Homo sapiens: one gene and its partners. The protein of the gene in region 3 interacts with the protein of the main gene of each other region in a pairwise test. Each region holds a gene or a part of one and is shown on either strand. Other genes may lie near its edges.

Region 1 (4,423 bases), on a different chromosome or scaffold from region 3:
AGACTAGTCTGGCCAACATAGTGAAACACTGTCTCTACTAAAAATACAAAAAATTAGCCAGGTGTAGTGGTGTGCACCTGTAATCCCAGCTACTCGGGAGGCTAAGGCAGGATAATTGTGTGAACCCGGGAGACAGAGGTTGTGGTGAGCCGAGATTGTGCCATTGCACTCCAGCCTGGGTGACAGTGCGAGACTCTGTCTCCAAATAAAAAAAAAAAAGGAAAAGAAATTCCATCCCAAGGTGATCCCTCACAGGAAGTGACTCAGAAAAGCAGTGAGCTACGAAAGCTATCTGAATGAAGCAAGATCGTCATGTGGGAGACACTGACTACCCACTCCTAGCAAAGGGCTCAGCAGCACACGGCCTCCCTGCGGGGATGCCCTCGGGGAAGATGTGGCCCAGAGGAGTTTTTTGGGCCTTGCTCCTCAGTCCTGGCTCTTAGTAGGACCCTCTGCAGCCAAACTAGCATATCCTGAGCCAGGCTGACCTTAAAAAGTAAGCATTCAGGGCCTAGGGACCTTGGGCAAAGCAGAGAAGCTGGTGTCAGATGAGGTGCAGCAGGTACAGTAGGATAAGGTGTTCTCAGGTCGCCAGTGCAGCCCCAAGATGAGCCTGCAGTATTTTCCTTACATGATCTGGTCCTACTGTGGGCAGCGCTGCTGCCCAGAGCCTGAGAGGATTATGAAAACATGGCAACGGAAGTGAGGCCAGGGGACACAGCATGGGGGCATGAGGAGCAGGGGACAGCGGGTGGGGCTAGAGGAGAGGGAGGTTTAGGGAGGCCTCTGCTGCTGTGACTGTGAGCCCCAGCCAATGATGACGTGGCCACCGCACAATCTGAGTTCTGGGAACCATGTGATGGAATGTGTTCTGGGAATAGACTGCAGCCAGGAAAAAAAAAGCAGAAGGGTGCACCCTCCCTTCCTCAGCCAGGAAAACATTTCTGTAGCCCTTGCGGACCCAATGCGCAGAAGTGAGAGGGAGGAAAGCCAGGCTCATGTTTCCTTGGTTGTGCTTCAACTTCTAAAATATGTTTTTTCTATGAACATTTTAATGAGGGGTTGGACATAAGACAGAAAAATAACATTCTGAGAGCTCGTTTGGAGGTTCTAGCAGGGGAGCGCAGCTACTCTTATACTCTTGACTGAAGACCGATCGTCCTCTATCGGGGATGGTCATCCTCTTCCATTGAGCACACAGCTTCTGGAGGGACGCACATGGAGTGGTGAGGGAGGAAGGGGATACCCGCCTAGTCAGCCAGATCAGCCGAATCAACCCTGATGATCAATGGGGTGACACATGTCGCAGCCAGATCACCCTCACATCCCAAAAATAACACTCAGATTGCTTTTTCTTTTTTAAGATGTAGACTTTTCTTGAGACTTTCGTACAAGGCAATGGACAGATAACCTTAACCTCCCAGAGAAAACACACATTGGCCACAGAAAAAGGCGCTTCTCCGTATACCTGCCATAGTTATCAGCAACTTTGAAATGGCTTCTCAGACTCTCAGGGGTTGGCTTGTTGTGTTTGCTTTTGCAAATAACTCAGGCTTAAGTCCTGCTACTTTCAGAGCCTAGGGGACGCTTAAGGACTACCATCAGTTTAACACAGTGGCACTTGGAGCACATGCTACTTATGGTGGTGAGGAGGGGTGCTGGTGTGAGGGTCTGAACGCTTGCTTCTCCTCTGGCAGGGTGTGAGCAGCCAGAGGCCACTACCTGGGCAAGGATGCTTGCTCAGTGTCCATGGAGGGACATGTGATCCAGCAGGTGGGCAGGAACCAGGCCCCTGTGGCCGCCCAACTCTCCATAATAGAATCCTTGGTCATCCATGGGCCCGTAAACCATGACCACGTCTCCTGCCCTCAGCGCCAGCCTGCCCTTCCCCTGGCCCCCCATTTGCCCATCCCCAGGATCATAGTCCAGAGCTGCTATCATGATCTTTGGAGTCCACAGTGGGAGTCTCTTGGAGTTCCCCTGGAGCACCAGGGAGGAACCCTGGGGGATGGTGAGCCCCTGAAAGTCCTCGAGGTGGGCCACAGAAGGCAGGTTCCCTTGGGCCGGAGAACGCCACCTCCTATCAGTCTGCTCTGTCCCCACCTCCATCTCAGCCACTAGGCGCCCGGGGATATTGCCCACTTGCCTGTTGCACTCGCTGAGGTAGAAATCATGGGTGTCCTGAGAGCCCCACACTCTTAGCAACTGCCTTTTCTGGAAGACCAGCTCCTCCTCTGCAGCCTTGAGGTTGGCAGACATCACCAGGGGGTTGTAATCAGAGAGGGCCACAAAGACCCTGGCTGGAGTGTTGGCCCCCGTCCCCAGCTGTTGGGGGCCACCCCTGGGCATCTTGATGACTTTGGCGGATGGAGCTGGACACAGTGCCGAGCTGGGCTCATGGAGCTGGCACCCTCTCTTCACCCCCAGAGCTTGTCCTTGCCTGCTGTGGGGCTCAGGCTCCCTCCTCTCCTCTCGCCTCTCTGTGCCCCACAGATCCAAGCACAGTGCCTCCTGCTCCTCCTTCAAAACGTTATGGAAGTCAGATGCATACTGTTGGCTGGCGCCCAGCTGGGGAGGTGTGAACCCTTGGGCATCTTGCTTTTGCCGAAGTACCCTCTCAAGGGCAGCCTTTTCCTGACACGGTTCTTTCCTGGGCCCACACTCGGTGCGTAGATGGATGAATCCTGGAGCAGGGCTTTTGCTGGTGCCCATGTGCTGGGAGCAATTTTCCTTCTCCCCAGGCTGGTCACTGACTGAAGGTGGCCTGTGGTTCTGGGGACTCTTCTGAAAGAGCAGGTCCTTTCTACAGCCCTCCCAGGCCTCTGCAAGCTCCTGGGCTTGGCTGCCAGCCCCTGAACTCGGACATTCTCCTTCTGAGCCCAGGTTGGACACTGGGGATTGCCTCCTTGGGGGTTCTTCAAAGAATGCTTCTAGGAACTTGGCCTGGGGCTCCCCGCAGCTTCCAGGGTTGTGGGGGCTGGCCTTGGCACTCGGAGGAGCCAGTGACAGCTTCTGGGGGCAGACGGGGAAGGTGACTCTGTAGGTGGATGGGTCGCCACAAGTGTAGCTAAAGGGTGGAGTCTCTGGCCATCGGTGACACATGAAGAAGTCCTCGGGGATCTGAGCAGGCACTGAATCCAGGGACTCACCACAGAGTGACATGGTTCTCACTGAGACCTTCTGCCACGTGAGGGGCACCTGTAGCTGGGAGAATTCCAATAGGGTGCTCCCAGCAGTGGCATCGGCGACCTCACAAACCTTAAGCCCATCTGCATACACAGCATAACCGGTGACCTGGACTCCATTGGAGGACCCAGCTGAGTCAATGGTCACAGGGAGCCAGCTGACCACCAGGACACCTGGCGAGGCATGGCGCTCCACCAGCACATCCAGCGGTGGGTAGGGAGGTCCTGCCAAGAGTGTGTCGAAGGTGACGGTGGAGGACATAGTTCCCCAATACACCTGCAGCAAGTCCCGTGGCAGCCGCACCTCCACCCGCGCCCGGTAGTGCGTGCCGGGGCACAGGCCCTGGAAGGTGTAGCAGCTCACGCCCGCTGGGGTCAGGGCATGCTCTCGGTCATCAAGATATACCACATGGGGGTGGCGGTGGCTGCTGTAGACCCAGGTGATGTTGGCTGATGTGGCTGTGACATTCTGCAGGTGTAGCTGCATGGGAGCCATACGGAGCACCCCTTTGGTCCCCAGAAGGGGTCTGGAGAGGCCCTGCTTCCCCATGCTCTGCAGCAAGCCCAGCTGGCAGGCTTCCGTCTTGGTATCCAGGATCTCTGTTGCTACTTCTGTCTTGGAGCCCACCCTGACCATCTGGCACAGCCCTCTGTCCACCACTCCCTGGGCTTTCCCAGATAATAAGCTGTCTTCCTCCAGAGCTTCATCCTGCCCCGCTGGGAGTTGACTGGGGCCAAGATCAGGGGATTTGGCAGGCAGGCAGCCTGGGATGTAGCTGTCCGGAATCTGCTCCACGAAGTTGGAGGGCACCAGCCCCCGCCGGCCATCCTCAAGCTCCCCCTCATAGAAGCCATCCTCATCCATGTCCCCGAAGATATATATGTAGTCCCCAGCTGTGAGGGGCAGCTCACCCTCAGGGTGATCATTGGGCCCCTCAAATGGGTTGTAGTTATACTGAGCCATGAAGATCTTGAGCTTGGGGGCAGCAGGAGCCGCCGAGCCCCCCATTTCCAGGGCCAGGGACACGCTGTCAGGCTCCAGGTCATCCACCTCACTGGCTGTGTCCCTGTCCAGAGTAGGGGAGGACGGCACGGTGGCCCACATCGACCCCTCAGAGGAGGAGTTTGACTGGGAGCTGGTTTTCTTGGACAGAGGTTGGCTGGCAGGGACTGTCTCTGAAACTTGGGGGACACTGGCTGACTCCCCAAGGGCAACTGGGCTCTCCTCGAGGGAGGCT
Region 2 (4,318 bases), on a different chromosome or scaffold from region 3:
TAGGGTTTTTAACCATTTTCTGGGTTTCATTCTATATACTTAGGCACAATTAGAAACCAAGGTATGCATTGGCAGTATTATGAGATGAGCTCATAGTGTGCTGCCTTCTGAAGGGAGCCACCGTACAGATTTTGGGGGGTCAGACGCCTACAGTTCCCACTGGCCACCCGAGCCCACCAGGCTGCCCGTCCCTGGCCACTCACCATGAAGTCGGTGGCCACGCCTGAGTTGGCATGCCTGAGGTAGATGGGATTCACACTGAAGGTCTGCTGCAGCTTGTACTTGTCCTTGACCCTGTGGGTTTCCAAATGGGCATTAGTGGCTGAGGTCTCTCCAGAGGAGGCAAGGCGTTCCTGCGTGCTCGGAGCTGGGCTGCTACACTCACCAGAACCCAGTACAGTCAAAATGCACCATCATCCACTTGGAAGGATTAAAGGTGAAGGAGTCGGCATACTCAATCCCCTTCAGAAACCCCCGGAACTCGGGGCACAGGAAGGCAGTGCCTGCATAAGCAGCATCGATGTGGAGCCACAGCCCCTCACGGGCACCTGAGGAGGCAAACATCACCTGGCCGGAGGGGAGGTATGAAGTGGGGAAAGATGTCTCGCACCTGGCCAAGCTGAGTGGTGGGCTGCAAGGATGATGTGCTTTGGCTAAATGAGAAACGGAGGGGTGTGGAGATGGGAGCAGGTGGAGTCAGTTTGAAGAAGTGGGGCTGAAGGAGGCATCATTACCTCCGAATGGGAAAGTCTACAAAGCCTCACCCTTGCCTTTTTCTTCCACTGGGTAAAGGGCCAGCACCCTCTTGGCCTCAGCCTAGAACATCCTGGCACAGAAATCAATTTCCCACCAGCACAGAGAGCAATGTCAGTGCACCGAATACAAAAGTTAGAGGGAAGGTATCTCTCTTTCCTAGTGGTTTCTTGCTTGGGGATTAAACAGTCCCATCTGGGTTTCCTCTCTGCCTTTAATCTCTCCCATGATTTCCCCTACCCTACCCTTTTCCTTTTCTGAAGGTAGAATAGAAAGCATTTCTATTCTAGCCTAATTCACACTGTATTTTGGATATAGCCTGCATTAAGTAAAGTTCAACATACAAGTAAGAGGATGAGAAAACCGAAGGCTCTCCTACTGTCGCCTCCTAGGACAGGAGGCAAGGTAGGCCACCTCTAACTCTTGTCACACCACTGGGAAAGGCAATGTCCAGGGATCCCTGGAAGAGACCCTCATGACCTTTGGTGGTTCTTCCCATGTCTCTGCATTGACCAAAGAGGAACAAGAATAATCCCATAGAGCTGGTTTCAGGTCCTTGCTTTAGGAGACATTTAAAAATGTATTCCTTGTCTTCCTAGCCACAGAGGGAAGATACTTACAGATGGGGCCCAGCTCTGACAGGCAGTCAAATGCACAGACCCCAGTGGTCCCTAGTGTTGCACAGACCTAGGGGAAAATTAAGGCAAGTTAACACAGGAGGGTGGGCTCGTGTGACACATTTGGCCTGAGAAAGATTTCACCACAGACGTGATCTACTCCCATCCATCCCACCAGAACAGTGTATATTTCAGACTGTGTTTTACCATGGCTCGTAAGAAACACATTTTATATAACAATCTAGTACATGTATACGTGTGTATTTGAAAAAAAAGTTTCATAAAACAATACATACTCTGGCTATATGTGTGCACTCTAATATTTTATACTATATTTCTTTTTAATGCTGGTTATGACCCACAAAATTTATTCCATAACACACCTATGGATAGCACCTCATGATGTGTAAAATACTGTATGGGAGGACCTTTCTGCTTTTGTGTGCAGCATGTTACTTACCTGAATTCTGCCAAAATTCCTTCCTCACATCCAAGTTCTATCATTCTAAGCTTAGGCATATATCCTGACTTACAAAGACGGGCACCAAGCCCCGCTGCTTGTCTTCCTCGATGGCCTTCTGAAGAGCTTCCCCTCGGAGTGAGAAGTTGTCATCCACAGGCAGAAATTTCATCTTCACAAGGGAAATCAAACCAGCCTTTTCCACAGAGGAGTGAGCCTAGAAGGGCCACAGAAACCTGTCAGCAAAGAGTCATCCTGGAATGATCACCCCCCAGAAACTGCTGAAGCCTAAGACTCGGGAACCAAATATGATCATTGGAAGCTTGTCTTCCCTACAGTTGCTGGAGACAAGCTCCCATGTCTGAGCTGCTCAGAACCCCAGCGTACTCACGTCTAGAAAAAAATTGCTCAAGGACCAAGATTCCAGAAGCCAAGCACCAACCCGAAGGGCTGTCCTGCGTCGGGCAACTCACCTGGTCAGAGGCATAGGCCACGAGTCGGGCATTTAGGCAGGACTCATCAGCATCGGGCTCAGACGTTTTCATTTCCAGGATTTTGTTCTTCCTTGCTGCCAGCAGGGCAATCAAAGTGGATTCACTGACCGTGCTCTGCAGGGGAAAAGGATTATCATGGCAGCCTTTCTGTATTCTCTTGCCAAATTTCCCCAGGCTTTCTAGTTTTTTCTCTCTCTCTCTCTCTCTCTCTCTCTCTCTCTCTCTCTGTGTGTGTATGTGTTTGTGTATGTGTGTGTCATAGCTATTCACAGAAGGAAATACACAGCTCCTCCTGCCCAGGGTGCCCATGTCCCTCCCCAACTTTCATTCCTATTCTGCCTTCTAAAATAAGTTTGCACCTAATACCAGCCTCTCTATTACAGAGGCCACAGAAACCAAAAAGAGAATGTTCTGTCCCTCCTGGATGTGTTTGCTCCCCATGTAAAACATATTTAAAAGAAGAACTCTCAGCTTATTACACAAATGGATATGGAGTTTGAGTCCCCAGGAAGAGAGGATCCTGGCCTGTGTGAGAGGCTGGTGACTTGGGCCCATTTAGTTGTCAATAGCTCTTGTGACCTTGGGCTAACATTTCCCCTCCAGAAGACTCTTTTCTGTCTATGAAATGGAGAGCATCCCTTTAACTGCTTCCCAGGATGGGAGTATAGATTATCCAAACAAGGGTTGGGTAGGATTTTGCTCTGGCCATGATTGTGGAAATCTTCGGGGCCACCTCAGGAACTTCACAGGAGTCTTTATGGTTCCTTATCATTCATTCACCCAGTCTTTGATGTCTTTGCTTCTTGAAATCTTCAAGTGACCTACAGCTGATAGAATCCTGCTAAAAATGCCTGGCAGACACTGTCATGGAGAGTGGTGTGGACCAGATCCCACAGATATTAAGTGCCTGGGAGTTACTCCATAAAAAGAAAGCTATTTATGTAAAGAAGTATGTAGCATAATAATAATAATAATCAGCTGGGTGCAGTGGCTCGCACCTGTAATCCCAGCACTTTGGGAGGATCCCTTGAGTCCAGGAGTTTGAGACCAGCCTGGACAACATAGTGAGACCCTGTCTCTACAAAAAAAACAAAAAACAAAAAGCCAGGTGTAGTGGTGCACACCTGTAGTCCCAGCTACGTGGGAGGCTGAGGTTGGAGGATTGCTTGGGCCCAGGAGATGGAGGCTGCAGTGAGCCATGATGGCTCCACTGCACTCCAGCCTGGGAGACAGAACCAGGCCCTGTTTTTAAAAATAATAATAATGGTAACAACACCTTCCATCTGTATTGCAATTCATAGTTTACAAAACACTTTCTGGCATTCTACTTGCTCCTCACAACACCTCTTTGAGATAATTATGATTCTTGTCACACTAAGATGAGGAGAGTGATGCTCAGAGAGGTGATGGGACTAACTCAAGTTCACATGGCTGACGATACAGGAGAAAGCATGGTTTGGATTTAGACAGGCATCAGTTTGAATCCTCGTTCTTCCGCTTATCAGCTGTGTAAGCTAGGGCAAATTATTTAATCTCTCTGAACTTCAGTGCTCTTATCTCAAAACATTGGGGAATGGTACTATTCACCTGCAGGGTTCCTGAGATAATCAGATGAAAAGCAAGATCATGTACCGCAGACATTTAGCATGTTCTCCCAAATATGATATCTGAAGTTGTAACTATTTGCTGACAATCCAAAATGTCCACAACATGCTGCAATTTGTCTTTCTTCCGAGGTTCAGATTTTAATCTTGCTGCAAGGCTGCAGTGAGAGAGGGAGTCACTTAGCTAGCAAGAGGACCTAGTGAACTTCCTGGTTCTCATCTCAGAGCAACATGGCAATTTTTTTATTTTTTGAGACAAGGTCTTACACTGTCGCCCAGGCTGGAGGGCAGTGGCACAATCATAGCCCACTGCAGCCTCAATCTTCTGGGCTCAAGCAATCCTCCTACCTCAGCATCCCAAGTAGCTGGGTCTACAGGCACATGCCACCA
Region 3 (4,318 bases):
GCTTCCTGGGACACAGCGTGTCCTGCTGGACGAACCCGTTCCTGCCACACCCTCGGCCTACCCCACTTTCCATAGTGCCAGCTCCCCGGTCCTCCCTGTCATCGGTCAGTTAGGTCAAAAGCACCTCCTCTCCAGAGAAAGGGGAAGCCTAGAGCTTCTTAGCCATCTCTTAAGGTGGCTTCCAGGGTCTGCAGAACCTGGCTCAGGAGCTGGGCACAGCCGGCTGCCGGGGGAGTTGGTAGAAATCCCAGTCCTCCTGGACCCCACTCCCCATCCAGGAACAGATGGCGTGACTCAGGGGTGAAGGGCGGCCAGGCCAGCCACTGCGCCCCCACTAGAAGAACAAAGCTTCTCAACCCGGCACATGTGCCTGGCTGTGGGGACAGAAGCGGAGACCAGCCACCAGCCTGGGCAGCAGAGCCGAGGTGGGCAGGGTGAGTTGCAGTGGCCCTCAGCAGGAGACACCAAAGCGTGCATCAGAGGACAGAGGTTTGAGCCCGGGAGCTCAATGCCCCCAACATCCCAAGCTTGTTCCTGGGCTCAAATGCGGTTCCTGTGGGAACTGAATGTCGGGTGGAGAGAAGGACAAGCGGGCGCGGGTGGCAGAGAGATGAGAGAGGACAAGGACAGGTGCAGTTTTCCTCAAGAGAATCTGGTGCCTCTGCGCTGCCCACGTCGTCTGGGAGGACCAAAGGCCAGGACACGTCTCCCTACCCAGGGTTCTCCGGCAACACTGCCTCAGCGGGCAGGCCTTCCCTGAACACTGCCTGACGGGGCCTGTCCCTCCAAGCCTCCCGCCCCACCCTGCTGGACTCCTGCTTTGCACTCCCCTCTGTTTCTATGGACTGTCTTCCCTCAGCACGAGTTCCACGAGGTCCCACCCGTAGCTGCATCTCCAGCACCCCGCTGGGGCAGTGCCTGATCCCTGGGAAGCCTGCAGCCCTCTGTGTTTGCTGAGGAATGAAGACATCCTTGGGCCACCACCAGCCCCCAGGAGGCCGCATGAGTGACACACGTGTCCTTTTCAATGCAGGACCCACTCCCCTGAATTCAAGTCACAAACACACAAGTTTCAACCCAGAAGCCTGGAGAGGAGGAGGGCTAGGGACAGCCCCCCAAACTCCTGACAGCCCCCAAAACACCTGAATAACTCGGAGGGCCACAGCCTTTTTCTCCACCCATCTGGGAGGATTCCCGCTGTCAGAGCCCTGAAGAGTGAAGCCCCCACTCACTGATTCTCACTTCCAATTTGCAGACACCCCTCCTTCTGACACCCAGGGCCAGGGCTGAGATCCAAGCCTCTCCTCTGTGCGCTCTGACCTCCCCAGCCTGGGTTCGAGCCCAGTGCCAGCCCTCACCAGCTGAGCAGTCCTGGGCAGGCTGCTGACACCCATCCCTGCCCCAGGCAGCAGTGTGAGCTGTGGATGGACCGCTGCTGTGACCAGGTGAGGGGTGGAGACCCTGGCTCCAGCCTCACAGTCCCTGCCCCCACCCGATAGAGGGACTGGGCTATGCCACAGCCAGGGGAGCTGTCACCTGGAGGCACTGTCACCTGGAAGCAGTGCCTCCAGCACTCAGTCCTTCCAAAGCATGACCTCCTGGTTATAAACCTCTCTGCAAAAAGCCTGTGCGCAAACGCTCGTCTCCGCAGCCGGGCATGGTATAATTCCTCAACCCACAAGCACACCAGGGTGACAGGACACTGCTCTCCAGCTCTGGCTCCGGGGTGCTGGCCAGGCTCCTCTCATTCCCTGCTCCCCTAGACAATGCTCCCCCAGTAGGTACCAACACTGGGCCTTGAATTGGGGGAGGCAGGAGTCTACACAGCCTCCAGGCTCTCCTATTTCCTTAGGCCTGAACCAGCTTCCCGAATCTATTTCCCCACAAGTAAAATGGATGTTAAAATACCTGCTTTAGCTCCAGGATTGCTCTGAGAGCAACGGGGACAGACAACAGGATGGACAATTTGGGACACAGCCTGGACAGGACCTTCAGCCTCAAGAGCAGAGGAAGGGGGCAGGTGCTAACTCCACACCCAGAGCACTTAGATCTGTGTCATGGCCTCAGAGGTCGCTCACTGTCAGGCCTGGCCACGAAGGCTTGCGAGAGCCCCAGAACTGGAAGGAGCTGGGCCATGAGGAACCGTGTGGGGGCCCCGTCTGTTTACCCACAACCTGTCTCCAATGCCACCACGGCCGCACATGCACACACGGTACACTGTGATTTCCCTACGGCGCCGCACGGTGACTTCAGTGGGCAGGGACTTTCTGGCCAGTGTGTCTTGCTCATTCTGTCTCCCCTGCCCCACTCCAGCTCCTCTCCCTCCTGCCCCCACCTCTCTGGCCGCTCCTTCATTTTCTCTTCAGTCCTGCCCACGGTCTCTGTGGCACACACGCTCCCACGAGGGGTCAGGGGCACCCCATTCCACCCAAGACTGCTCTTCTGAGGCCCACAGCCAAATCCCACTGCCCCGGAACAGCTCCAACGGCCACTCCACAGCCATCACCCCCTCCCAACCTCCCCCTAGACTCAGCAGCACTGAACCGTCATAGGCAAGAAGGCCCGGGGCTGTGTCTCAGCTCTGCCAAGGGCTGGCAGAGAATTTTTAAATTCTCCGAGCCTCAGTTTCCTCTAATGAAAATGGGAACAAAAGCCTCCACCTCAGTGATTTAAGGACGAAATGAATTCACACACGCCAAGCCCCAGGCTGCTCCTCAGTTGTGACTGGCTGCACTCCAGCAGGCCTCAGTCTACCCCCAATCCCCCCTCACAACCCCCCGCCTGACGGCTCATGCCTCTGAATGTTTCAAGCCAAACCTCCCCCTCCACTCCACTGCCTCGAAGCTGGTCAGGCCTTGGCTGGTGCCCCCAGGTCTGAGGTCAGGCTCTGCACCAGCCGCCCTACCTCCAGGCCTGTCCCCTCTCAGCCACTATGACAGCAACTCCCCTAAAACACCAACTCATTATTGAATTCCGCCACATCACCCTGTGAACAACGATGGCGCCATCCACCTCCTTACATACCTCGAACTTTCCAGAAGTTAGAAAATAACCTCAGCTGGGCGTGGCAGCTCATGACTGGAATCCCAGCACTTTGGGAGGCCAAGGCATGAAGACGGCTTGAGCCTGGGAGTTCAAGACCAGCCTGGGCAACATAGTGAGACCCTGTCTCTACAAAAAATAAAAAACTTCCCTGGCATGGTGGCATGTGTCTGTAATCCCAGCTACTCAGGAGGCTGAGGCAGAAGGATCGCTTCAGCCCAGGGGTTGGAGGCTGCAGTGAGCTATGACTACACCACTGCACACCAGCCTGGGGAACAGAGCAAGATCCTGTCTCTTATAACAAGAAAAAAAAAATGGCCAGGCACGGTGGCTCATGCCTGTAATCCCAGCACTTTGGGAGGCCGAGGCGGATGGATCACTTGAGGTCAGGAGTTCAAGACCAGACTGGTCAACATGGCGAAACCCCATCTCTACTAAAAATACAAAAATTGCCCGGGCGTGGTGGCATGCACCTGTAATCCCAGCTACTCGGGAGGCTGAGGCAGGAGAATTGCTTGAACCTGGGAGGCAGAGGTTGCAGTGAGCCGAGATCCCACCACTGCACTCCAGCCTGGGCGAGAGAGACTCCATCTCAAAAAAAGAAAAAAGAAAAAAAATCCTGCCACCTGTGGAGCTTCTGAAAACCCTGCTAGCCAGGCTGCTAAAACAGAATGGGTGTGGGGGCCAGCAGTAGGTATTTTTAAGGATCCTTAAGGTGAAAGGATTGCTTGAGCCCAGGAGTTCAAGACTTCAGTGAGCTGGGTTAGCGCCACTGCACTCCAGCCTGGGTGACAGAGCGAGACTCTTGTCTCACAAAAAACCAAACCAAACCCAAAACAGTTCCAAGATGTAAGATGTATGGTTAGTACAGCAAAAGATCTGGTTGGACCCAAAAGGTGCCTCTTATTCAAGATGTAAGAGTAACTACAGCCGAAATAGATCTATTAATTCCCCAGAGGGCCCCTTTAAGGAAATGTTTAAAGTATTTCAGGACAGGAAAGTGACTATTTAAATATAATGCAATTCAATGCAAAAATGTTAAAGGATGTGAAAAGGTCTGCACCCGAGCGCCCACCGTCATCAGGCCCACGTACCCAGAGAGCAAAAGGAGGGGCACCTGGGCTCACTCTGGGGTGACACCATCACCAGAAAGAGGCACTGCTCCCCCAGGGAGCCCCTTTGGCTCTCCCTGAGGATCCAGAGGGTGACAAGGCCCCACATCACAATTTCCTCCCCACCAAGTCCGCAGGGCACAGACTGCTCTGCAGCCCGAGGT
Region 4 (4,318 bases), on a different chromosome or scaffold from region 3:
TTCCATGAGTCTATGAAATGTTTATTGCTATTGCTTTTCCTTCACTATCCTCACCTTCAGAGCTGCCAGCACCCACCTGGAATGTGGTTCCTTCACTTGGGCCATGAATGGCACAGGTAACCAAGAGCTTGGCCTGCCTGCAAGCTCTATGGTCAGACAGGTGAGTCCTGGCACTGGGAAGGGCAAAAGAAAAGGGAGAGAAATGCCCTAGGTTCCCACTCCAATCAGGAGGAAGCTCCTCATCAGAGTGGGTCCATGACAGCTCAGAGGCTGAAGTCTGGATGACACAGGGCATCCGGCCTTCCAAGGCCTCGGGATGCTGGGATCCTACCACCCTGCAGCCGCTTGGCAGGTCTAAGGACAAAATCACCTTTTGAGGAAGTGCCAGGTCAGTTAACATCACTGTGCAAATCAGAAGGTCCAGGGCCAGATGCTTTGGCCAGAGACCTTTCAAACCAAAGCCATGAGGCAAGCACCGCTCCTCCCTTCTTCCCTCTCCTTCCCCACAATGCCCTCCCTCCCCCCACCCTCCCCCAAATTCTAAAGACTTTTTTCCCCAGGTTCTCAGCCTGGGGTATTAAGCTGCTAATAACACGCCTACATACTCAGGTGGTTTTGTTCTTGGTCTGTTGCAATGGTTCTCAGGAGACATTTCATTTGTGTCTGGGACATGGGAATGTCCTGAACTAATCTTGCTTAAGAAAAAACAACCAGAACACTCCCCTAGAGATGTAGCCTGCTCAACAGCTCTGAGTTCCTACCCTGGACCACATCTGTTTATGCTCTTCAAATGGAATCCAGCCTTCAGATGAACCACTGCAATAAACCCTACTCTCTGCTTGCCTCTAGACTGGGATCCCCAGGGACAGGACACTTAGGGAAGAGCAGAGAGGACATGGCCTGGTCAGGTAGGAGGAAGGGGATAGAGCTGGAAGGGCAGGGGCTAAGAGGGGGACAGTTGGGGAGAGGCAGGAGATTAGAAAAAGCAGCTTTTACAAAAACCAAAAATAAAAATCAAAACCATTAAAGATGCATAAAGTGACCCTTGCACTTCCGTTGTCTCTTCTTGCAAATAGAGGTGGTGCTGCTAGGGAACTGCTCCAGCACCGGTGTAAGACTTGAGTAGTTGCATACAATGTGTGACTCCAGATCTGCAGAGGGAAAGGGGAAAGAAACAGTGTCAGTGATATTCAGGAGGCTTCTCCCCTCAACTCGGGAGCCCGCTGTGCCTTCCTAGTGAAGCTGCCTGCCTCCCGCCTGTGGAAGTTGTTGTGCTCTGGTGCCAAGAGCCCTGGAGGAGATGGGGGAGGCCAGATGATGTGGGGGGCCAGAGGATTTCAAAGTGACATCCCTGGAGCCCTATGGTTCACTGTCACTGCCTCAGGAGCTGCTGAGGGGACCAAGGAAGCCAGAGGTCTGGGTCAGCCCAAAGCCTCCAAATAGCTCCAACCAAAGCTCTTAACATATGATCTGGGCAAGAGTTCATTTGAAGAATGGGGCCCATAGTTAAAAGAAGTCCGAAGACCATAAGGTAAATGGCACAGAATTTAGTACTAGAGAACTGAAGTTTAAGCCCTAGCTTAATTTTTACTGGCTAAGTGATATTTAACTACATATTTATCTGTAAAATAGAGCTAATGATCCTTATTTCACAGAGCAACTATAAGGATTATGAGATAACATAAGCAAAGGGATAGCTATTATTATTTCTGTTATTATTTAGATTTCAACAAGCAGTCAACAGAAGTGATAGCTATTATTAAGAGTGATATTATGGACCTTGGAGCAGGAAAGCAACTGGTAACTTGACAGCTGTTACCTGCCCTAGCTGACACCTGTGCTCCAGACCCAAACCAGGGACTTTGAGGCAGTTCCTGTATGTATCCCCCTCCCACTTCTCTCACCCTGGCCACACTCACTTGGATGGGCTGCAGGCTTTACCAGTGTGGGGGCACGTAGCTGTACGCAGGGGTTCCTTGGGCCCTATATGTTGGCATGGAGACAGGGTGTGCCCCAATCGCCGTGTGCTGGGGTGTAGTCAGCAGGGTACCTGAGCATCCAGAGAGAGAAGAGTAACCTGACGAGGCTGCACCAGACACAGGAATGAAGAGGATGAAGCTACAGTCTTTCACATGGCTGCTCCCTCTGCCCAAATCCCCCATCTCCCTCGCCTTCCTGATGACCTGTTTTCTGCCCTTCTCCACCTCACCAGGCTTCACCTCCTTAGGGGAATTTTTTCTGATGCTTGAGGACAGAATCAATGACTATTCTAAGTCCTCCTTTTCCTTTTTTCTTTGAGACGGAGTCTCGCTCTGTCGCCCAGGCTGGAGTGCAATGGCGCGATCTCAGCTCACTGCAGCCTCTGCCTCCTGAGTTCAAGCGATTCTCCCGCGTCAGCCTCCTGGGCAGCTGGGATTACAGGTGCCCATCACCACACTCGGCTGATTTTTTATTTTTACTAGAGATGGGGTTTCACCATGTTGGCCAGGCTGGTCTCGAACTCCTGACCTCAAGTGATCCGCCCACCTCGGCCTCCCAAAATGCTGGGATTACAGGCATGAGGCACCACGCCCGGCCTTCCTTTTACTTTTCTTTGTATGCTTCTCTTATTGCACAATCATACTGAGTAGTAATTGTGATGTCTGTGGCTGTGTTTCCCACACTAACCTGGGTGTTCCTTAAGGACAGTGTTCTGATCTGATCTATTGATATTGGGTTCCCAGGACCTGAACAAGGCTGGCACTGAGTAGATATCCAACAGTTTGCCAACTTGATCTGAGGAGTAAGAGGCCTCAACCATACCCTTACGTTAGGGACAGAATAAAATCCAAATGCTCACTCTACCCCTTGTACTTTCTTACCTCAGATGGTATCCTAGCTGGTTCTTTAAAAGTTGGGTCTCTAGGCTAGGCATAATGGCTTATATCTGTTACCCCAGTATTTGGGAGTCTGAGGTGGGTGGATCCCTTGAGCCCAAGAGTTCAAGACCAGCCTGTGCAACATGGTGAAACCCTGCCTCCACAAAAAAACACAAAAATTAGCTGGGTGTAGTGGCGCATGCCTGTGGTCCCAGCTACTTGGGAGGCTGAGGTGGGAAGATCACTTGAGCCCAAGCAGATCAAGACTGCAGTAGGCCAAGATCGTGCCACTGCACTCCAGCCTGGGTGACAAAGCAAGACCCTGTCTCAAAAAAAAAAAAAAAAAACCTAACAGTCCTTGGGGACTTCTGCTTTTGTCATCCCTCATAATTATTATAATTATTGCACAGGTCCTTAAGCTCCTGCCTAATAAAGAACATTGCCCCTGTGTCTTCTTTTTTGGCGCCCCTGCTGTTACTGGAGTGCTAGCATCATCTCTCTCCCCTAAAGTACACTGACAGCCTCCTCACTGACCTACTTGCTTCCAGATCACCCCTTCTAATCCTGTCTCCACTCTGCAGCCAGAGAATGTTTAAACCTAACCACATCCCTGCCCTGCTTGACCCCCATTGTGTGCAACAGAGGTACCACAAGGTATTCAGGACTTTCCACCATCTTATCCTTGCTAGCGATCCAGCCACCTTCCAACTCCAAGCCCCTATTTCCGAAGGGCCTTGGCTCCATTCCTCCATTCTGTGAACATGCCATGTTCATGTTCTTTCTGCACCACCCTTCCCTCTTTCACTTCTCTAGTTAGCCTGTGTTCACCCTTTAAGGCCTAGCTCGATACGTCCTTCTTGGTGAAATCTTCCTCATCCCCATAGACAGATTTAGAGGCTCCTTCCTCTGGGTTCCCAAGCCCCCTGGCACAGGATCTCTTGTGCTGTGCTGCAGCCAATTCTATGACTGTGTTCTCTGCTCCGTTTTGAGTTCCTAGAGGAAAGGGATGGACACTGATGCAGATGCTGCCCTCACCTGCTGACATTGCCATGGTGGTGCCTGCCACCATGCCCATGGCCACACCGTTGGTCCTCGGGGCGGCAACAGGTGCTGGGTAGATAGCAGAGGGAATGCTGTTGGGCTGGACGACCGTGGTATGGTGGATGACATGAGGCTGGGCAGCATACACCGGCTGTGTGTAGTAGGCTCCCTGGGGGAAAGAGGCTGAGGTCACATAGGCATTTGGAGAGGTAGGTGGGATATGGAGAGAGCAGCACTGGCTGAAGGACACAAGGTCCGGACCCCAGCTGGGGCTCTGCTTGTCTTACTATGTGACTGTGGTCAGTGCAGTGCTGGGCTCAGCTTCTGGTCTGAAAAATAAGGCTCTAATCCTGTCCTGCCTTGCTCATAAGGCTGCTATGATGATCTAATGGGATAAGAGCTCTACTCCCTTAACCTTG
Region 5 (4,752 bases), on a different chromosome or scaffold from region 3:
GCGCTCGCCCGACGCGTAGAGGTCCAGCAGGCGGTCCGCGCGGTCGTGCGGGACCCCGGGCGGCTGCCGGTCCCAGTGCACCACCTGTTGAGCCTCCTCCACGTGCCGGTCGGTCCACACGTGCCCGCGGTTCACGCAGGTCAGAAGCGCGGGTGCGCCGCGCGCCACCGCCAGCACCTCCTTCTCGCCGTCCCAGTAGGCGGGGGTGGCCGGGGCTGCGGAGGGGGCGCGGTCAGCGGCGCGCGGGCCGGGGCGGCGGTCGAGGGTCGAGGGGCGGGAGCTGGGGGGCGGGGGGGAAGCACTCACGGCCGTCGGTGACCTCCAGGCGGACGGCCAGGCTCTCGTAGAGGTGGCAGTAGTGATGGTGCAGGTTGCAGGTGTACAGCCCCGCGTCCGTCTCCTCCACCGCTGCGCACCCAGGAGGAAGCCGCGCGTGAGCCTTGCGGTGCCCCCGACCCCGCGGCCCCGGACCCCTGCCCCGACCCCGCGGCCCCGGTCCCCGGTCCCCGCACCGCGGATGAGCAGCGAGAAGTTGCCGTCGTCGAAGGCCGAGGCCGAGAGCTCCAGGCGGCCGCGGTCCCGCGCCTCGTACACGCGCTGCTCGCCCGCCGAGTACAAGTCCAGCAGGCGCCGCGCGGGGCCACCCCCGGGGCCGCGCAGGTCCCAGTGGAGCACGCGCTGGCGGTCGTGCAGCCGGTCCTGGGTCCACACCATGCGCGGGCTCTGGCAGCGCAGCACCGCCCGGGCGCCCGCCTCCCAGCTCACCGCGGACTCGGACACCACGGAGCTGCCAGCAGCGGCGGGTACCGAGGACCCTGGTGGGGGAGGGGAGTCGGTGGGGGAAGGGGTGGGCCCCCTAGGGCCCTGGTTGGGGGAGTCAGTGGGGGAGGGGCAGGGCCCTGGTGGGGGAGGGATGTCTGTAAGGGACGGGCAGGACCAGAGGGCCCTGGTGGTGGAGGGGAAGTCCGTGGGGTGGGGCAGACCCCCGAGGGCCTGGATAGGGGAGGGGGAGTCACTGGGGGAGGGGCGGACCCTGATGGTCCTGATGGGGGAGGGTGAATCAGTGGGGGAGGGGCGGGCTCTGAGGACCCTGGTGGAGGAGGAGGAGTAACTGGGGGAGGGGTGTGCCCCAAGGACTCTGGCGGGGTTGGGGGCATCTTTGGGGGGGTGTGGGCCCCTGAGGCCCCTCGTGGTGGGGGAGATTCCATGGGGGAGGGGCATGCCCCCTAGGGCCCATGTGGGGGAAGGGGAATCATTGGGGGAGTGGTGGACCCCCGAGGGCCCTGGCAGGGGAGGGGGAGTCCATGGGGGAGGGCAAGTCAGTCGGGGAGACATGGGGCCCAAGGACCCTAGTGGGGGATGGGGAGTCCATGGGGGAGTGGTGGGCCCCGAGGGCCCTGGTGGGGAAGGGGACTCAGTAGGGGAGGGGCAGACCCCGAAGGCCCTGGTTGGGGAAGGGGAGTCAGTGGGGGCATCTGTGGGGGAGGGGTGGGCCCCCGAGGGCCCTGGTGGGTGTGCGGGAGTCTGTGGGGGAGGGCCAGGCCCCCAAGGGCCCTGGTAGGGGAAGAGGAGTCATTGGGGGAGGGGGAGTTATTGGCAAGGGGAGGTGCCCAAGGGTCCTGATGAGCAAGGGGGAATCAGTGGGGGAGGGGCAGGGCCTGAGGACCCCCGGGGGCTGGGCCTGGCAAGATAGGAGGGGCTGAGGGGGAGTGGGGGTGGGCAGCTGGGGCTGGGGTCACTAACCTGAGTGCAGGAGAACAGCAGAGCCTGGAAGGAGAGGAGTGAGCTGGAGAGGCCACCCACAGCCCCACCCAGCCCCGAGACCCCCCACTTGGCCCCCAGAGTCCCTCCTGTAGTCCCAAAGTGGATGCTGTGACACCCACTTCAGTGCAGGGAGGACGCCTCTCACACAGACCTACATAGCCCTCCCTGCCACCGTGCTGGGCTTTGGATGGCACCTGCCCTTGAGTGGGGAAGCCAGGGCATGGGCGTGGGCCAGGGCCAGGCTCCAAGCCAGCCGGTTCTGGGGTGTGTGCTTGTCACCGGGGCCACTCCACCTGGCTGCACCCAAGTCACCCAGAGCACCAAGGAGGCTGGATCTGTGGGTTCCCCCACGCTCCCTCCAGGGCTGTGCCCCAGCCCCCGAGGGTCCTTGGACCCTCAGACGCTGGGGACCCCACACCACACCTAAGGCTCAGCGCAGCCCCTGAGGTGCTTCCGCAGGGCAGAGGCCTGAAGGCTGAATGTGGGTCGTGACCCCGGCTGCCGCCCCACAGGCCCGCGTTGCTGCTTGAGGGACTCTCATTGTCGTAGGCCGCCTCGGCATCCACTCTGAATCTAGGCTGGACTTTCTCTGACCGGAAGCGGGGCTGCCACCCGGGACAGTTTCCAATTCACATCCCCCGTCCTCGAGCTGATCCACCCAGACGCCCGCCCTACGCACTGTCCCCTGGTGACCACCCCCTGTGTCCCCACAGACCCCACGCCCCACATGGACTGTGCAGCTGCACCACGGAGTCCCCCCACAGTCAGCGTGGCCCCACGGGGCTCGTGCCGCTTGCCTTAAACCCACCAGTTAAAACTCCCCCACCAGGCATGGTGGCTCACGCCTGTAATCCCAGCACTTTGGGAGGCCAAGGCAGGTGGATCACCTGAGGTCAGGAATTCAAGACCAGCCTGGCCAATATGAAAAACCCCATCTGTACTAAAAATACAAAAAATTAGCCGGACGGGGTGGTAGTGGGCGCCTATAGTCCCAGCTACTTGGGAGGCCGAGGCAAGAAAATGACTTGAACCCGGGAGGTGGAGGTTGCAGTGAGCCGAGATCACGCCACTGCACTGCAGCCTCCTTGGCGAGAGAGAAACTGCCTCCAAAAAAATTCCCTGAGGGAAACCTGTATGCAGAACGCCCTGATCCCAATAAAGGGTTGGCCTGGGGGTCCCTGTCTCTCTCCACTTTCCCTGGCCTCCCAGCAGTCTGTGCACCCCAGGGCCCGTGGGTGATAAAAGCTGTTTCTATCCTGTGTCTCTAGATCACTGGGGGCTGCTCTCCCTCACATAGATCCTATGTGAAAACTGCCCCAGAGATGTGGCCGAGAGCCTGGGAGCTTCCCAGAGGAATGTGCCCGGTCAGCAGCCAGCCCAGGCCTGGGAGCGGGGGCTGGAACAGACCCCACAGTTCTCAGGTCCCCTTCAATCACTGACCCACTCCCTAAACAGAGCCCCAGCAAGAGGGGCTGCAGGAGGGGCCCCGAGGGAGACGCCGCCGTGCCTGGGCCCCCAGCCCTTCTTGGCCCTCTGGGCTTCAACTCCCTAGGAGGGGAGGCTGGCCAAAGTCTAACTGAAGACGTCACAGCCTCTGGCAAGCGGCTCTCCCGAGCGCCCCCAGACCCGTCCTCTTCCCTGGTGGGACCTTCCCACTCCTCCTGGCCCAAGCTCAGATGGGCGGTTTTGTCCGAAACGGACTCGCACAGCCCCACGTGCCACCCCCCACCCGCCTCCCAGGGCCCCACACTCACTCTGCAGAAGCACAAGTTTCCAAAGCAGGATTCGGGATGGCAGCGCCATGGCCCCCGCCCAGCCCCAGGCTTTGTCCCACTCGGCTCTAAGTCTCTCTCCAGAAAAACAGCCCTACCCCCTCCCCCTCCTTAGCACCCGCGGTGACATCACGGAGGCCTGGGCCTGTCTACGGTCTGGGGACCGCCCCCTCTGGCTCCTGCCGGGCCCCTTGGCCTCCCCCATCGTTGCTGGCCTGCTGGGGAGGGGCAGTGTGGGAGCAGAGGCCCAGCCCCTCACCGGTCAGGCCTGGGGAGGGGTGGTGACCGCACCCTTGGAGGGACAAGAAGGTCCGAGGACATGGGCCCCTGATACCACGTGATCGTGTCTCACGTCTAGGAGCCTCCCGGGCCTGTGGTGAAGGGTTGGGACTGTTGGGTGAGTGGCCCCTCCGCCCCACCTCTGGCCTCCCCCCACGTGAGCCACCTCAGGGCAGGGTCCTCCCCTCAGTCTGCTCCAGGCCCCAGAAAGGCCTCCCAGCGCTGAGACCGCCCCCACCCACGGTGCACGCTGGTGCTCTCCTTCAGACCAGATGGCCCTTCCAGCTCCAACCCTTGGCCCTGCATGACCTTGGTACCCGTCTCCTCTGGGGGCCACGGTGGGCTCCCTTGGGCCAGGATGATGGACGCTGCCAGTCACTAGTCCCCTTTACAACCTGGAGAGTCAGCCAGGGACAGGGGACCCTGAGCACTGGGAGGCCTGGGGGTGCTGGGGTGAGCAGACCTCTCCCTGCTGGCCCCGTCCCCTGGGGCTGCCCGCCTTTAGGGTGCAGCCTGGTGTCCCTGAAACCAGGTGCTGGATTACAAGCCTCCTGGAGAAAGGGGAGAGTGGGACCCCTGCCATGGAAGGCACAAATTTGAAACTGTGGGAAAACTTACAAAGTCACATAAACAAATGCGAAATAACAGCCTGCACTGTGTAGCAAACCCAACTCCTTCTAATCAAGCAAACCTCAAGAAAAAACAATCTGAACAACCACAACCACTAGAAACCCTCAGTGCATAGTTCCGCCCGCCCACTTGGAGTGAGCTCTCCTTACAGGCCCCGAGGGCCCCAGCTGGGTGGGGGGCTCACCCCTGAACCCTGCTCTGGTGCCCAAGTCCTCAGACAGTGGGAAGCCCAGTGCAGATCAGAGTGGTGGTCTCAGGGCGAGGGGAGGGGAACCTGCGGCTGCTCCAGTGAGAGGAACGGGCAGGA
Region 6 (4,318 bases), on a different chromosome or scaffold from region 3:
TTTGTATTTTTAGTAGAGACGGGGTTTCACTGTGTTAGCCAGGATGGTCTCAATCTCCTGACCTCGTGATCCACCCGCCTCGGCCTCCCAAAGTGCTGGGATTACAGGCATGAGCCACTGCGCCCGGCATGCAATGGATGTTTTCTTACCTGATTCCTTTGGTAACAAAAGTTGCAAGCCCAAAGTTTTGCTCGATAATCCACTTGACTGTTTTAAAAAAAAAGAAAAGACATATCAGTTCATATTTCAGTTCAATTTTACAAAAATCCTAATTTCAATAAAATTAATTTCTTCCTAAAACATGAACATATTCAAATTGATAGTCAAAGTAACTTTTAAAAGCCATGTAGTTTTAGATACTGCCAATATCTAATTCACACTTTTAACATATACAAGTTTACCTAAATGGTGAATATAACTTTTAACATATAGTAAATATTGGCTGGGTGCAGTAGGTCACGCCTGTAATCTCAGCACTTTGGGAGGCCTGAGGCGGCAGATGGCTTGAGTCCAGGAGTTCAAGACCAGCTTGGGCAATATGGTGAAACCCAGTCTTCACAAAAAATACAAAGAATCATCCAGGCGTGGTGGCACATGCCTGCACTCCCAGTTACTTAGGAGGCTTAGGTGAGAGGATCATCTGAGCCCAGGTGGTCAAAGATACAGTGAGCCACAATCACAACACTGCCCTCCAATCTAAGTGACAGAGTGAAACCATCTCAAAAATATATATATGCACACATATATACAGCAAATATCAATAAAATTAAAATAATCCTATTTTTTTCTTCAAGTGACTTCAGTAACATCTACACTCAGACCTAGAAAACATTTATTCAGGTCAAAAATATATTTACTGAATGCCTAATAAGTACCAACCACTATTTTAGGCGCTGGTGATACAAGAAAAAGAGAACTGCTCTCATGGAGTTTACATTCTAGAAAAAACAGACAAAAGACAAGCAGATGCACAAACAAGAAAATACTTTTGGTGTTTTTTTTGAGACAGGGTCTCGTTCTATTGCCCATGCTGCAGTGCAATGGTAGAATCATAGCTCCCTGCAGCATTGAACTCCTGGCTCAAGTGTTTCTCCCATCTTCAGCCTCCCAAGTAGCTAGGACTACAGACACATACCACCACACCCAGCATATACATATACATATATATATATGCATATATACACATACATATATATATATGCATATATACACATATACATATATATGCATATATACACATATACACATATATATGCATATATACACATATACATATATATGCATATATACACATATACACATATATATGCATATATACACATATACATATATATATACACACACACACACACACACACACATATATATATATATATATATATATATATATATATATATATATATATTTTTTTTTTTTTTTTTTCCCCTCCTGTAGAAATGGAGTCTTGCTTTGCTGCCCAGGCAATCCTCCCACCTTGGCCTCCCAAAGCACTGGGATTACAGGCGTGAGCTACTGCACCCAGCCAAAAATACTTTTACATTGTAATAACAGAGATTAAAGAAAACAAAGCAGAATGTGAGAATGTGTTTAAGAGGGCTGCTTTAAAAAACAGCCTTCTTAAATAGACAACTAAAGTATGATCAGAATGAAAAGGAAGCAATCATACGAAAATATGGAGACAGAAGAATCCGGGCAGAATGCACAGCTACTATACCATTGTCAAGGTAGGAGTAAGTTTGGTATGTTCAAGAATCAGAAAGAGGGTAACAGGGTTAAGGTATTATGTAGATGAGAATAAGGAAAATGGATAACACAAGATGAAGGCAGAAATATATACAGAGGCTAGATCATACAAGGCTTTATAGATCTTGATAAGGAGTTTGTATTTCTCATTCCAAGAATAAGAAGCTACTACTGGAAGATGTTCATCATCTGATTTTCATTCATAAAACTCTAGCTTCTGGGTAGAGAACAGACTGCTGAAAGACAAGAATAGAAACAGGGAGAGCAGGTAGGAGGATATTGAAATTGCCCAGGAAAAAGACTGTGGTATCTTGAAGCAGGGTATACTACCAGAGATGGAATAAGAGGCTGTAAGAGACAGAATCTATAATGTTCTAGAGGTAGATCACCCAGATTTGCTAGTGGATTGGCTGGGGGGAGAGGGAATGGAAAGAGAAGTAAGAGATGATTCCTGAGATTTTGGCTTCAGCAACAGAAATCACAACATTTTTGGAACATCATGTCACTCAATCACAACTTTTTTTTTTTTTTTGAGGCGGAGTCTCGCTCTGTCACCCAGAGTTGGAGTACAGAGGCACGATCTCAGCTCACTGCAACCTCCATCTCTCAGGTTCAAGCAATTCTCCTGTCTCAGCCTCCCGAGTAGCTGGGACTACAGGCACATGCCACCACACCCCAGCTAAGTTTTGTATTTTTAGTAGAGACGGGGTTCCACCATGTTCGTCAGGCTGGTCTCGAACTCCTGACTTCAGGTGATCCACCACCTCGGCCTCCCAAAGTGCTGGGATTACAGGCATGAGCCACCACGCCCGGCCAATTATGACTTATCTAATGATGCAAGATGGGTTGATACACATCCAGCACCACTATTCAGAAGACACTGATGGAATCTAACAGTTTTTATAGTGCCACTTTTACATTTGGTCTCTTTATATTACCAACTCAGTACAACTAGAATGATCCTAAAATTTTACAGCTCTCTGGATTGTTTTGACTGTCCTAATTTGAAAAAATTAGTATGAACAAAAACAAAGGGATTTTTATAAAAATATGCAGAAAAACCCCGACATTTTAAAATCACATTGCCACATTAGTTTTTCTATATATTTTACTTACCATAAAGGATTCAAAACTGCACGGCAAGTGGTCCTACTACACAGAACAGGTTCATATTGAATAGGTGGTAAGTCAGGTCTCTCTTTCAGTGGTGTAAACAGGGCTGCCACAGGAACAACCATTCTTGTAGCTTCCAGTCGACTTGATGGCCAAACATTCCAACTAAATCGGACTCCATCTCGTTCTTCATTTTGTTGAATGAATTCCAAATAGGTTGTCATTGTGGAGTTTGATTCTTATTTCTGTATCAAAATTTTAAAATATTTTAAAATCCAGGATCCTCTTAAGAACGTTCAAAATATGAATGTTCTCCCCTCATTCAGCAATATTAACACCTTAGAAATCAGGACCAGCTGGGCCCCGTGGCTCACGCCGGTAATCCCAGCACTTTGGGAGGCCGAGACAGGCGGATCACCTGAGGTCGGGAGTTCGAGACCAGCCTGACCAACACGAAGAAACCCCGTCTCTACTAAAAATACAAAATTAGCCAGGCATGGTGGCGTATGCCTGTAATCCCAGCTACTCAGGAGGCTGAGGCAGGAGAATCTCTTGAACCCTGGAGGCAAAGTTTGTGGTGAGCCGAGATCATTCCGTTGCACTCCAGCCTGGGCAACAAGAGCAAAACTCCATCTCAAAAAAAAAAAAAATCAGGACCAAATGAAAATATTTATCTCAGAAAAAAATTAGCAAGCAACTCATAACAAAATAATTAATGGCTCTACCCAATGTTCACAAGGCCCAATAAGAGGTATTTAACACTTTTTTATTCACTCTAAAAGATGATGGCAAAAAATAGTGTCTTATTTCTTTAAGGATATATAGGAAAGAAATGCAAAAATAGGGGGAAAACCTAGATCCTATGTTTTCCATATCAGTTTTGAAAATTATAAGAATTCATATAAACAGATTTCAAAATTATAAAGTTCTAAAACTCACATGGTTTCTATCTGAAAAATAACAAGTTTCCACTAAACTTTACAGAAGAGAATGTTTAATGGTATGTAACAAAAAGATTTTCCTAAAACTGGACACTTCTGCTTTGGACAGGTAATTTTCTTATTGTGCAAGTACAGGCTATTTGTGGCACAATAAATAAAATGCTTGATAAGTGCTGTTCCCCCAATTTATATATCATTTAGACTCTTTTGCAGAAACTTACTTCAGAATATTTTGAACATTCCAAATTATGAGAGCATTTTAAACTCCAATTTGAGATATAAAATTTCAGTATAATAATTTAAGTTTACTAACCAAGGGAAGAGGATGCACTCTGGGGAGGGACCAGTATCAAAAGACAGCTCCATTTTTACTGTCTAAATGCCTAGGTAGGATGCCGGCTTTCCTACGTAGGCAACAGCTCTATCTCATGCTCTCAAACTGCAACAGTAGTTAGTCATGGAAGGAAGCTGAAGAATTTAAAGGTGTGGGAGGACAAAGACATTCAAGTGTTATGCAGCA
Region 7 (4,318 bases), on a different chromosome or scaffold from region 3:
GCGCCCACACACGGTCAGCACCTGCTGAGCCTCCACTGGGGTGGGTGGAGGCTGAGGAAGCCGTTGAGGCCAGGGCACAGCTGCGCCACACACTCCTATCAGCGCCTCTCCTCCTGCCGCCTTTCCACAAGGCCTCAACTCTGCCTCCTTCCTGGAGGAAGGCAAGGCGGAGGCTGCCCCAAATCTCCTGCAGGAGGCAGAACCTCTGGAACCAGCGGGAAGGATCCTATCTGCCACCAACCTCACACCCAGCCCAGGAGTCCGGGATGCCTGGCCAGTGTCTGATGCTCCAGCAGCGGCTTGGATGCTCCCAGGGACTGGGCGCTCCCTCCCCTTGGCAGGGAACTCCAAGGTTTTGAGGCTCACAGAGACGGTGGGAGGCAGGCGCCGGGTGGGAAGGGCGTGGCTCTGGCAACATAAAGATCTAAGCCTGAACCCCGACTGGCCATCGATTGGCTGGCTGGGGGGACTTGGGCGTGTCCCTGAACTTGCCTGGGCCTCCCTTTCCTCATCTGTAAAATGGGTATAAGGGTCCCTACTCCCAGGGCTTTGGGGAGAGGGCAGCACTCAGCACTCCTGGTCCCGAGTGCCCACTGGGTAAACGGTGGTCGTCATTGCTGTCATCTCCCCCCAACCACAATACTCCCCTACTGCCTTGGGGAGTGGCAGCTTATCACCTGGTTCCAGACCTGGCAGCTGAGCTCCCAGCCTTTGGCGCGGCTCCCGGCCTGTCTGTGCCTCCCTCCCCAGCGTCCCCCACCCCCAGGCACACCTACATTTACAACCTGTACAGAGCTGCCCTCACACACCACCACACGCGTGCGCACAGGAGTGCCCGGCTCACCCACTCCTGACACACGCCATGACCCCGTCACTCACGCTCGGAGCGTGCCCACGTGAATCGGGACTTGCCCACGTGCCCCGCAGCACCCGCCCTGCCTGCAACACCCACACCAGGCACCCGGGCCCGCTCACGCTCACCTGCACACCTCCATGGCGGCTCCCTGGCACCTCCACCAAGCAGGGGCCCCTCACCGCGGCCCAGGGCTTCAGTGTGCAGACTCCAGGCTGAGAGGGGACGGGGATCAGACCCCAATGGCACCACTCTCCAGCCGTGGGACCATGAGCCAGCTCTCATCCACTCTGAGCCTCCATTTCCTCATCTGTAAAAAGGGGACCCCCACAGGGCTCCTGGGTGGAATTGGTGAGGAACACACGTGAACACCAAGGACAGGCCTGGGTCACACGGAACATGCCTAATACCAGATTCTCACCGCAGTGACAGCCCCTGACCGTCCCGTGCTGCAGCTCGCAGATCCTCCACCACCACCAGGAGCAAAAGGAGGGCCGAGATGAGCCGCCAAGTTCAACGTCTGTTATTCCTAACCCCGCACACGGCTCTGTGTAGTAGAAGTCCCTTATCCCCAACCCCCAGATAAGAAAACTAAGGTATCGAGAGGCTAAGAACCATGCCTGAGGCTGAGAAGATCCAAGGGCCTGGGTCTTGAACACCACAGCCCAAGCACACTCCGTCCCTGGGGCCCTGACGTACCTTCCCCACTGGGTCTCACTATCTGGGAATTTGAACATGGTACAGAAAGGGAAACTGAGTCCCAGAGGGAACTAGTGACTCCAAAGCCACTGTCCAGGCCATGATGGTCCTGGGACTTAATCCCAGGCAGGCTGCTGTCCATCCTCTGAGCCCCTGGGCGCACAGGAGCCTAAAAGCCAGCCTGCCACAACCCTTCTCCCTCCCCAACTCACCAAGCCAGGAGCCAGACACAGAACAATCCGGCCACCAACCCAGCCGGGCCACCACAGAGGCCCTCCATGTTTGCCACTCGCTCCCAATTCAGCCAAGAGCCTGTGACAGCTCACTCTGTGATTGCCCAGGGGAGTGGCCAAGAACGGCTGTCCCTGATACAGCCGGTCCAGCAGCCTCCTTCCTGGGAGAGCATTTACTGAGCACCTACTACGTGCAGATCCCTGTGCAAACATCCCTGTCTCATGCGCAAGGGACCTCAGAGCTCAGAGACGTAAGGAGCTGGCCAGGATTGCCCAGCCAGGAAACAGCAGAACTGACCTTCAAGTCCTCAGCACCTGCCGTTCTGCCCTTGGTCAGAATATGACCCCAATCTCAAGTTACCTAGAAACGCCGCAACGTAATCTCTGACACTCTCTGCCCTGCAAAATAGATCACACACAGAATGTGAAAATTGATTCATCTTGTTATGACCATAATGATGATGTGCTTTTTAATTTATATTGGCTTTTTTTCTTACCAGAGTGCTAGAGATATCTGGGGCAAGATGAACCCCAGCAGAAGACCTCAGTGAAGAAGTCAAGACATCCCTAGGCCAGGCGTGGTGGCTCACGCCTGTAATCCCAGCACTTTGGGAGGCCAAGGTGGGTGCACCACTTGAGGCTAGGAGTTTGAGACCAACCTGGCCAAAATGGCAAGACCCCATCTCCACTAAAAATACAAAAATTAGCCAGGTGTGGTGGTGCACATTCTAATACGAGCTACTCAGGAGGCTGAGGCAGGAGAACAGCTTGAACCCGGGAGGTGGCGATTATAGTGAGCCGAGATCGCGCCACTGCACTCTAGCCTGGGTGACGGAAGTGAGATTCCATCTCGATAGATAGATAGATAGATAGATAGATAGATAGATAGATAGATAGATAGATAGATAAAAAGAAGGCAAGACATCCCTATCTGAACCCCAACAGCCAACTCACCTTGGCACAGTGGGAGGTGCCCTGACAGGAACAAAGCAGTTCCTGCCACATATTTGCTGTGTGACCTTGGGGAAGATGCTTCACCTTTCTGGCGCTTAATTTGCCTACTTGTAAAATGAGGGCATTGAACTACTTGGCCCCAAGAGTCTCCTCCAGCTGAAAGATACTAGGATTCTATTTCATAGTATTCAAAGAAATAAATGTTGACACAGTGAGCCACCTCTTTTCCTCCCCATAAAATTGGCAAGAAGTAAGGAAAACAGTAATACCCAGTGCTGGCAAGAATGCAGAGAAATAGGCACTCTCTCATCTACTTTTGCTGAAAATGTAAACTGGAACAGCCTTTCTGGAGAGCAATTCAACAATTTTTAATCAAAAGCCTTTCAAAACATCCCCAGCCTTTTAACTCCATAACCCCGTTCTGGGTTCTTATCTTCAAGAAAAGATAAGTGCAAAGATTTAGTGCAAAGACATTCATGCAAAGATGTGGTACAAAGATGTTCATCTCAGTATTTTCAATATGGGAGGAGGAAGCTAACTGTCCAATGACAGGAGATTAAATAAAATATGTTCTGTCCATATGATGCACCATGAAAAAAAATCATGCTCTAAAAGCATAGTTCATGATACGGGCAAACATTCAGAATGGTCAGGTTTTTTTAAGTCAGAAAATAAAAAGTAGATAATCCCAAATTTACAAGGTAATGAAAACTATGAGTCCAGGGACAGCGGCTCATGCCTGTAATCCCAGCACTTTGGGAGGCCAAGGTGAGTGAATCACCTGAGGTCAGGAGTTCGAGACCAGCCTGACCAATATGGTGAAACCCCGTCTCTACTAAAAATACAAAAATTAGCTGGGAGTGGTGGCGGATGCCTGTAATCCCCTACTCGGGAGGCTGAGACAGGAGATTTGCTTGAACCCGGGAGGTGGAGATTGCAGTAAGCCAAGATCGTGCCACCGTACTCCAGCCTGGGTGACAGAGTAAGACTCTGTTTCAAAAAAAAAAAGAGGAGGGAAGGGGAGGGAAGGGGAGGGAAGGGGAGGGGAGGGCAGGGGAGGGGAAAGAAGGGAGGGGAGGGGAGGGGAGGGGAGGGGAGGGGAGGGGAGGGGAGGGAAACCAAGTCCTACTGAGTCTTCCTCCTAAATATATCTGGAATCTGTCTTTCATGTCATCCCCACCGATACTCCAGTTCATCACCATGATCACCTTCGGTCTCATTACCACCCCTCTTCCCCGCCAGTCCATTCCGGGACTGCAGCCAACAACAATTTTTCTAAACCCAAATCTAATGTGTCTCCATCACCTCCCTTCCACGGCTCCCTACGGATCTCGAATAATGTCCAAATTCCTTCCTGTGGCCTCTCAGAGGGTGACATGGGCCCGGCCCACTCGACAGGACACCACCCCCCTCCACTGCCCATGCCTTGCCCCAAAGGGGTTTAAGACAGGCCTTGGGAGCAGCAGGAGCTGGGTCCGATCCCAAGGCCTCTGCCGGGGAAAAGGGCTTTCCCCTGACACGGGGTGATGGGAGAATTCTGTGGGGTGATGTAGGGAAGGGAGAAGCTGGGTCCCATTTA

What was found.
Region 1: the proteins of DTX2 (region 3) and RIMBP3 interact in binary tests that used the Homo sapiens proteins (3 or more experiments, as listed by UniProt).
Region 2: the proteins of DTX2 (region 3) and HDC interact in binary tests that used the Homo sapiens proteins (3 or more experiments, as listed by UniProt).
Region 4: the proteins of DTX2 (region 3) and FAM168A interact in binary tests that used the Homo sapiens proteins (3 or more experiments, as listed by UniProt).
Region 5: the proteins of DTX2 (region 3) and MXRA8 interact in binary tests that used the Homo sapiens proteins (3 or more experiments, as listed by UniProt).
Region 6: the proteins of DTX2 (region 3) and SEC23A interact in binary tests that used the Homo sapiens proteins (3 or more experiments, as listed by UniProt).
Region 7: the proteins of DTX2 (region 3) and NCS1 interact in binary tests that used the Homo sapiens proteins (3 or more experiments, as listed by UniProt).

The regions. Positions count from the first base shown.
Region 1 is NC_000022.11:18,604,775-18,609,197, forward strand, and holds the end of RIMBP3 (RIMS-binding protein 3A), read right to left. Parts: coding exon 1,741-4,423; 3' UTR 1,041-1,740; downstream 1-1,040. UniProt on the Homo sapiens protein: Probable component of the manchette, a microtubule-based structure which plays a key role in sperm head morphogenesis during late stages of sperm development.
Region 2 is NC_000015.10:50,252,227-50,256,544, forward strand, and holds part of HDC (histidine decarboxylase), read right to left. Parts: intron 4,106-4,318; exon of another isoform or gene 3,966-4,105; coding exon of another isoform or gene 3,957-3,965; intron 2,439-3,956; coding exon 2,304-2,438; intron 2,048-2,303; coding exon 1,904-2,047; intron 1,441-1,903; coding exon 1,374-1,440; intron 654-1,373; coding exon of another isoform or gene 549-653; coding exon 386-548; intron 295-385; coding exon 204-294; intron 1-203. UniProt on the Homo sapiens protein: Catalyzes the biosynthesis of histamine from histidine.
Region 3 is NC_000007.14:76,492,265-76,496,582, reverse strand, and holds part of DTX2 (probable E3 ubiquitin-protein ligase DTX2), read right to left. Parts: intron 1-4,318. UniProt on the Homo sapiens protein: Regulator of Notch signaling, a signaling pathway involved in cell-cell communications that regulates a broad spectrum of cell-fate determinations.
Region 4 is NC_000011.10:73,405,594-73,409,911, forward strand, and holds part of FAM168A (protein FAM168A), read right to left. Parts: intron 4,069-4,318; coding exon 3,894-4,068; intron 2,051-3,893; coding exon 1,938-2,050; 3' UTR 1,920-1,937; intron 1,152-1,919; 3' UTR 1-1,151.
Region 5 is NC_000001.11:1,354,938-1,359,689, forward strand, and holds the start of MXRA8 (matrix remodeling-associated protein 8 isoform 2 precursor), read right to left. Parts: upstream 3,619-4,752; 5' UTR 3,568-3,618; coding exon 3,519-3,567; intron 1,768-3,518; coding exon 1,744-1,767; intron 816-1,743; coding exon 513-815; intron 409-512; coding exon 307-408; intron 216-306; coding exon 1-215.
Region 6 is NC_000014.9:39,093,038-39,097,355, forward strand, and holds part of SEC23A (protein transport protein Sec23A), read right to left. Parts: intron 3,103-4,318; 5' UTR 3,082-3,102; coding exon 2,861-3,081; intron 208-2,860; coding exon 150-207; intron 1-149.
Region 7 is NC_000009.12:130,178,371-130,182,688, reverse strand, and holds part of NCS1 (neuronal calcium sensor 1), read right to left. Parts: intron 1-4,318. UniProt on the Homo sapiens protein: Neuronal calcium sensor, regulator of G protein-coupled receptor phosphorylation in a calcium dependent manner. Directly regulates GRK1 (RHOK), but not GRK2 to GRK5. Can substitute for calmodulin. Stimulates PI4KB kinase activity.